Linked DNA regions of Homo sapiens. The protein of the gene in region 1 interacts with the protein of each later gene in a pairwise test. Each region holds a gene or a part of one and is shown on either strand. Other genes may lie near its edges.

Region 1 (3,806 bases):
ATACCCACTCCATCCCTCCTCATGGTAGAGTATTGAGAGCTCAGCACGTGAAATGCTAAGAATGCTAAAAGCAGCATGATCTAGTGCAGTGATTGTCAAGTATTTTGTAGACTTTTTTTTTTCCAGATGGAAACACTGTTCAAATTAAATTTCCTGCAGAAACATGGTGTATATAAAAACACAAGCTTCTCTGATTAATGAGAACAGAGCTCTTTGCCCTCAGCACCCCACATCACCATGGCAGCTACTGAGGCACCTCAAAGGAACCTCTACAACCCTGCAAAGTATAGATTGAAAAAGGACACGGATTAGTGGCATGGTCAGTGGGTGAGCCATCAGAACACTGGGCTGGAATCCCAGCCCTGCCCCTCATATAAGAAATATCCTCTCTGGCCGGGCACGGTGGCTCACGCCTGTAATCCCAGCACTTTAGGAGGCCGAAGCAGGCAGATCACAAGGTCAGGAGATCAAGACCATCCTGGCTAACTGGGTGAAACCCCATCTCTACTAAAGATACAAAAAAATTAGCTGGGTGTGGTGGTGGGTGCCTGTAGTCCCAGCTACTTGGGAGGCTGAGGCAGGAAAATGGTGTGAACATGGGAGGTGGAGCTTGCAGTGAGCCAAGATCAAGCCACTGCACTCCAGGCTGGGTGACAGAGTGAGACTGTCTCAAAAAAAACCAAAAATATCCTCTCTGGCCTCAGTTTACTCATCCTTTAATGGTAAAATCTGCTTTCCCTCCTCATAGGGCTCTTGTGGGGATCAAATGAGATACTGAATGCAAAATCATACTGCAAAAACATTTAAGATGCTACACAAACAAGGGATATTTTCAAGACATGCTCGTGCAAGTGACAAGGATATGAAAAGGACGGAGAGCGGCTGCTGCATGGTGCCAACACTGTGGATGCGGTGCACCTGTAGGGAAAGCCGGGGGAAGGCAAGGCTGTGGGGATTGAGGCTGCAATGCAGAGAACAACTGGGCAGGCAGAGCCTCTCGGAGCAGAAAAGCAGCCCGCCTGGACTCATGCACCACTGCCCTTCCATGCTGCTCATCTAGGACAGCTCAAGCAGATAGACCCGTGGAAACGGCTCCCCAGCTTTGGCTCCCAGCAGGCCCCAGAGGCCTTGGCTTGCTCTGCCTTCTAAGCAGTGTCTTGCTCAAGCAGCTGAAGCTTGTGGGGATCCCAGAGCAAATGGAGGTCACAGTCTGAGGGGGGATGTGTAGGATGGATATGGTGTGGCCATGGAGCATCCCTGCCAGGCACACACTGGCAGGCCCGAGTGTGGGTCTGGACAACACAGGCCTTGAAGTGTAGGGGGCTGGCATCAGAGAAAGAGGGCAAGAAACACAGGTTTTGGAGTAAACAGACATGGTTTCCAGTTCCATTTTCCCCACTCATTAGTTCTGTTCCTTGGGCAAGTTCACTTCTTTGAGTCTATCTCACCTGTGAAAGGGGAAAAATAACAGCACCTACTTTGTAGATACTGTTATAATTGGGGGGGAAAAAAAAGAGAGGGACTGACCCCAAGCACAGTGCCTGGAATGTGGTAGTGCCTGAGGAGTGTCAGCTCTGGTCTGGGCCAGCACCAGTACCTGGAGGACCCCTGTGATGGATCCATCACCACCAGGCACCACCAGAAATGCTAGCACCAAATCTGATGGTGTATGATGGCCTCTTGTGGTTCAGGACACGGACTCTGGACCCAGACTGCCTGGCTCTAAGTACTGGCTCTGCCCCTCTCTGGCTGTGTGGCCTTGGGCAAGTTAGTCAAGTCTGTACCTTTTCTCCCTCTGAAAATGGGGATAGTTATAGTACTAATCTCATAGGGCTGTTGTGAGGAAGGAATTAATCATGGAAAGCACCTAAAAGAGTGCTTGGCACGTAGCCTTCCCCCAGCAAATCGTAGTTGTCATTACTGCACGCTCGGCCCCAGCAGAAGCTCAGGAAGGAGGGGGAGGAAGAGGCAAGTCTGGTGCATGGATGCATATGAGCTCACACATGCACACTTCACATGCATGCACATACATATGCATGAGTACACACACTTCATGCTCTCTACCCACACACCTACCTTGGTTTTTTTCTTTTTCTGCATAAGAAAAGGAAACAGTAAATGCAGAATAAGTGAAAAGTAAGTTCTCAGAACCGCCAGTGGCTTTTGGCTTCCCTGTATCCTGGTCTTTAGCTTGGGGTGGGGCTCCAGGGTCCAGAAATCTGAATCACATGGAGCCAAAAAGGGGCATGGAGGGTGAAGGGAGAAGAGAATTCTTCTTTCTCCTCCATGCCCAGACACCAGTGACTGCTCTGACTTTGTTTTTATAATCTACTCTTACTGCATATGGCAAGGAAAAAGATCTTCTGGCTAAGGTTTTCTTTCTTCCTTTTTTAAAAAATGAAATTGGTGGCCGGGCGTGCTGGCTCATGCCTGTAATCCCAGCACTTTGGGAGGCTGAGGTGGGCGGATTATCTGAGGTCAGTAGTTCAGGACTATCCTGGCCAACATGGTGAAACCCCATCTCGACTAAAAAATACAAAAATTATCCAGGCGTGATGGTGGGCACCTGTAATCTCAGCTACTCAGGAGGCTGAGGCAGGAGAATTGCTTGAACCCGGGAGGCGGAGGTTGCAGTGAGCTGAGATCATGCCATTGCACTCCAGCCTGGGTGACAAGAGTGAAACTCCGTCTCAAAAATAAACAAATAAATAAATAATAAAAAAATGAAATTGGTTACTAAAACACCAAAAACATGGCTCTCTCAAACTGACCTAACAATGGATTTTGACTTACAGAATATTTTTTAAAAATTTTTGAGCAAGCATTTAACATAGGGAGATTTTCTTTGGTAAAAGCCCCAGCTGTGGCAGGCTGCCCTGGGCCTGTAATCCCTGCGGCAACTATCAGCTGAGCCAAGGGCCCTGCTCCCTGTGTCTTCCAGATTGCCCCACGCCCCAACATTCCTGTTGACCCTCGACACTGGAGCGAAATGTCAATTGAGAACTGCAGACAACTGTGTCAGTGCAGGGACATCAAAACCCCTGCACCTGCCTGCTCTACTCACGTGACGTGCCAGCTCCCATAAGCTTTTGGGTTTGCAGGTCCTGATCAATACTGCACACCGATGACCAGCATCCAGATGACCAGAACAGATCCCCACACACCTACCACTAAAACCAATCGCCTGTGGTCATTCAGAAGGCACTTGGAGACCTGGCACTGGCTCAGGGTCAGGATTATGACCATGACTGTCACTGCCCAGAAGACAGTTCAGAGGGGCATTTGTCCTCCCATTGGCCTACGTCATCCCCACAGAGCACAAAGGACTGTCAGCTGACTACAGCCCAAAGCCCCAAGGCAGTCACAAGACTCCTCAACACACAGAGCCCAACACACAGCACTCTGTGCTTCGGACTTTGGGCTTCTCACTGCCTGGGGCTGGCCTCAGCGTGGAGGTGCGGAAAAACCTAAGTCTGGAGTCAGAGAGTCTGAATGTGAGTTCCAACCCTGCCACTTACTGAGCTCTGTGAACTCAGAGAAGTCATTCAACCCCATTGAGCCTCTGCTTCCTTTCTTGAACACCAGGGATTATAACCCCATCTACCTCTCAGCAACCTTGCAAGTATCGCGATGACACATGTGAAAAGTACCTTGTAAGGTGTAAAGTGTGAAAAAGCACCTCTGTTTGAGTGCCCATGCTGTGCCAGACACTTCACATACATCACCTCATTGATGAAGCCTCACAAAAGCCTTGCAAGGCACATTATCATCCCCGTTTTACTGAGTAGGAAACTGAGTGAGAGGGA
Region 2 (4,514 bases), on another chromosome or scaffold:
GGCATGCAGGGCGGAGGAGGACAAGACAGTGAGAAGGAACACGGTGTCTCTGAGGATTAGCTGAGTGGGCACTTGGCTCTGGGAGCTCAGGCATGGAATGCTCTAGGGACAGCTGCAGGGGGTCAAGAATGCTTGGCAGCTCCAGGTGGCCAAGGAGAGACAGCTGAGCAGCCAAGGATCCTGGACAGGGCCCCCACTCTGCCCTGTGATAAGCCTGGCTGTTCCCCACTTGTTCACAGCCTCCTCTCCCTCTTCTCTCCAGGAAATCCCCTTCTCTCCTGCCAGAGGAATTTGAATGGAGAAGTGGGTGCTGAGTCTGGCTGGGTCCATCAATGCTGGGCCTCAGGGGCCTCTCAGAGTCTGAGCTCCCTGGTTCCCTGGGGAAGGCCCAGCACCGTCCCAACCAAGAAGCCTTCCTGGCACCTCCAGGACTAGGGTCGACACAGCCATAATGCAGCTGCCTGGTGGGGCCACATCTCACCTAGAGCCAAAGGCTGGGAATTAGGGTTGGGAGGCTTGGGTTTTGGGTGCCACCAGAGAAGATGCTCTGCAGTGCAGTGGGACATGAGTGGTCCTGTGTAGGCATCAGACTCTGGGACTGCCAATAAAAGGCTGGGTGACCTCAAGGGATGCCCTGGGCTCCTTGGGATCTCCTTGGGCCTTGATAATCTATGAATCTAAGCTCCCTAACCCCATGGTTCCCATGTCTCTCAGGCCTCAGAGCTGAGCATTTCCTTTCGAATCCAGACTTGACCCCTCCTGTGGATCCCCTCTCCTTCTGGAGGCCTTGTCTAGAGCTACCAGAAATCATCCATCCCCTAGTGGAGGAGCAAGAAGGAAGGTGGAGAAGGCTTCAGGCCACCTGCCTGCCTGTGTCTCTCCTCACCCTGGGGGACTGTGCTGTCCCCAGAGACCTCAGATCAGACCAAATGACTCACTGTCATTAACAGACTGAAACCCGATCAGCTCCGGGAGGGGAGCGAGGGGAGGATTGAGGCTAATGCACCTTGCAAATAGAAATATTAGCAATGGGGATGGCAGCTGGCCTGCGGGGCCCCAGTGAGGTATGCCCTCTGCAATGGAGAAGTCTTCATGGGCCTTTTGCAGACCTTCTTTTTCTTTCCACTAGGGCCATGGTGGAACAAGGGGCAAGCAGCGCCTTCTCTCTGTTTCAAGACCTTTGAGAGAATCTGGAACCCAGGCCACAGGAAATGGGCAGAAAATGAGCATTTATGGCCACTGGAGAGATTGAGATTAGATGGGAGATAGAACAGATGGACTCTTAGCATTGAGCAGGTGACCCAGGGAACTTGACCTTTTGTTTCTGAGCCCCTTTCTCAAGGCGTGGGGGCTGGACCACTCAGGGAAATGGCTTCTTAGACCTCCAGAGGCCCCTTACTGCTGAGGAACCTGGAACTTTCTTAAGGCAAGATGGTGATAGCGTGTGGCTTGTGCATGTGAGCGTGGGACGGGGGAAATGACTGCCTGGTTCCCTCTACCTGCTGGCCTCAGTTTCTCCATTAGATAAGGTGTTTGGGAAGGGCTGGGTAGCTGAAGGCCAGGATGGGCTTTACCAATGTTCTCTCGGATGTGGATGGGCTGGTCCAGCATGGCCGGCGGGCCAGCCCCTGCAGAACTCACTGCAGACACGCGCAGGAGGAACTTGTCTCCCAGAGCCAGGTTCCGCACAGTCTGCTGGGTCACCATCATGGGCCGGGCACTCACAGGCACCCACTCCGAGGCTGAGGGGATGGAGAGAGTGTGAGGTCTTTGCAATGTGGCCACAGGCGCCCCTCTCCATGGGGCTTCTTTTCCTGCTGGTGATCTGGGGAAATCAGCCTCCCTCTCTGGGCCTCATTTTCCCCTTGTTTGCCTTCCCTGACTTCTTGTCAAATGGCATCAAAGACACCTGATGTTAGAGCCCTGAAATTGTGGCTAGAGATGAGGTTGTTGAAGCCCAGAGAGGGTTGGACACATTTGCAAAGTCACACAGCAAGGTAGGGGCAGAGGCAGAGGCCAGGCTGGACTTGGGCCATGGAGGGGGACAGTGGCAGCAGGGATGTGGCCCCCACACCCCCACCCCATTCCCGCTTTCTCCTCACTGTCTCTTACGCTAACATTCCCCTCTCCAGCTCCTCCCTTTCCACTTCCTACAGTTCGGGGTCCTCTGAGACTTAGCACTTCCTTCCCTTCTCACCAAAGGAGAACCCAGTGTCCCCTTACCCTTCCCTTACTCAGAAGCTCCTTGGAGCTGAGGACAAGGGAGCCCCTCAACCCACCCACCTACCCTTTCTTGCTCTCCTGCTGGTGGAGCAAGAAAGGGCAGGTGGGTGGGTTGAGGAGCCTACTGCTCGCATCCCCTCCTTCTGTATCTCTCCCAGACTGACCAACCACAGGGCCTGTGCACTTGTCCCTGCAGCCCTCCATGACAACCTCCCCTGGGTGTATGCAAGACTTAGCCCAGCACTCACCTCCCTCTCTGCAGAGCTCCAGCACATAGCCCTGGAGGCCCAGCCTCCCCAGCCTCTCTGGGGGCTCCCAGCTCACAGTCACAGAGCTGCTGCTCACATCATCCAGGGTCAGCAGCAGTGGGGCACTGGGGACATCTGGGGAGATGAAGAGGTTCATGGCCAAGAGCTCCCCTCCACCCCTGACATGCCTGCCTCCCTCCTCCCCCTGCCCCACCTTCAGTCACCTTCACTTGGGGGTGCAGGCTTAGTGGCTGTGGAGGCTGTAGGGGCCTGTGGGGCAGGGGCCTGCGGCTTGGGCACCTGCTCTTCTCTGGTGGACTCTGATACTGCCACTTCTCCGGGAGGCTCTGCTGTGGGCACCTTGGCAGATTCAGATGCGGTCTCCTCTGGACTGCAGGCAGGGCCCTCGGAGGTGTTTTTTTCCATCATTGCTGGACTGGCTGGGGGGCCAGGGTGGAGTGTGCAGGGGTCAGCCGTTGGGGGGCCTGGGCCTCTAGGGTGCCTGGGACACCTAGGTCCAGGCTTATATAGTCAGGGGCTGCCCCACCCCCAGCAAACGATTCCCAGCTGTGGGGTCAGGTCAAGCAGGAGGACTGGAGGGTGGAGAGGCGCCCAGGCCAGGAATAGCTCTGGGGGAGGAACCACAAGGGCCCCTTGAGGAGTCACTTCCTCATCCATCTCCCCGACTGGCCTTCAACAGCCAGGGTGCTGGTGCCCAGCTGGGGGAGGGCGCAGATGGGTGAGATGGGACATCGAGCAGGCCGCGTGCCAGGTGTCAGGGCAATAGGAGGAAGAACTTCTATCTGGAGAATGAGCCCAGCTCAGGCTCTGTGTGTCTGGCGTCTATGGGGCCACTTGTTCCCAGAGCTTCTCAGACTGGGTGCTGGGGCCCTGACAGTTTGGGACAATCGTCCTTGTGAGCACTCCCAGCTTTGCCTCTGGGGTCCACATTCCCTGGGCTCCCACAGTTCCCAGGGACTCTCGCCTGTGCTGTATGAGGCTGAGGGCCCTAGAGAGGGAGGGAATTGAGATGCTGAGGGTGGAGCTGCTCAGAGGATGGTCCTCCAGCATTGGAACCCCAGGAAGGGGCACTAAGTCTCCTGGCTCCTGTCTCAGTTGGGCGGCTGGTAAGGAGCTCGTCTCCCCTGATGCCTGCTGTGGGCCTCAGTTTTCCACCTGTTACAGAGAACCCCTCGCCCTTCGGGATGGGTTGCAGTTGTAGGCAGATCTGGAAGATGCCCTAGTGGAGGAGAGCACTCTGAAGCTTCTAGACTCTTCCAAGCAGGCTGTGGGCATGGGCTTTCTCAGTGTGCCAAAGGAGGCAGATATGGCCAGATTTCTAGTCATTGATTCATTTGTTCGATAAAATGTTAAGACTGGGAATCACTGGAAAGCCAGAAAATGCCATGTGTCAGGAAGGAGGGAGAACATTAAGAACTTTTATTGCTGGTATTGGAGCAGTCACTCTGGAAAATGTGAGAGTTTTACTAGTGCCTAGTAAAATGGATGAGGTGCCTACTCCGTGACCCAGCCGTGCCGCTCATATAACACCCACACATGCCCCAGGAGACATGGAGAAGAAGGTTCATGGCAATGTTATTTGTAATTGTTGAAATGTGGGGGAAAACAGCTGTCCCTCAACAGTGGGATGGATAAATAACTGTGGAGTGTTTATGCAACTGTAAAGCAAAATATGGGGTCAAATGAGCAACTTCAGCTACTCACAGACCCAGTGATGAGCAGAAGAGCAAGGCACACAGAAATGTTGCGTCTCATCTGTCTCATCTACATTAAATCCAAATGCAGTCAACACCAGGCTCCCTTCTTCAAGGTACATCCGTAGGCGGTAAGGCCAGAAAGGAAGATGAGGCCAGTACAAAAGTTAGGATGGCGATTGCCTCTAGGTGGAGGAACAGGGATATCTGTGATCGTGAGGGCTGCAGGGGTGCTAATGAGGTTTCCTTTCCTGACCTGGGTGGTGGTTACACAGGTTCTTACTACATAGTTATTCTTCAAATTAAACAAATACATTTATGCACTCTT

The links.
Region 2: the proteins of CAPN3 (region 1) and MYBPH interact in a two-hybrid assay, tested with the Homo sapiens proteins (one large-scale study listed by BioGRID and IntAct).

The regions. Positions count from the first base shown.
Region 1 is NC_000015.10:42,404,214-42,408,019, reverse strand, and holds part of CAPN3 (calpain-3), read right to left. Parts: intron 3,257-3,806; exon of another isoform or gene 3,065-3,256; intron 2,095-3,064; coding exon 2,077-2,094; intron 1-2,076. UniProt on the Homo sapiens protein: Calcium-regulated non-lysosomal thiol-protease. Proteolytically cleaves CTBP1 at 'His-409'. Mediates, with UTP25, the proteasome-independent degradation of p53/TP53.
Region 2 is NC_000001.11:203,172,856-203,177,369, forward strand, and holds the start of MYBPH (myosin-binding protein H), read right to left. Parts: upstream 2,972-4,514; 5' UTR 2,912-2,971; coding exon of another isoform or gene 2,901-2,911; coding exon 2,696-2,900; intron 2,607-2,695; coding exon 2,472-2,606; intron 1,743-2,471; coding exon 1,575-1,742; intron 1-1,574. UniProt on the Homo sapiens protein: Binds to myosin; probably involved in interaction with thick myofilaments in the A-band.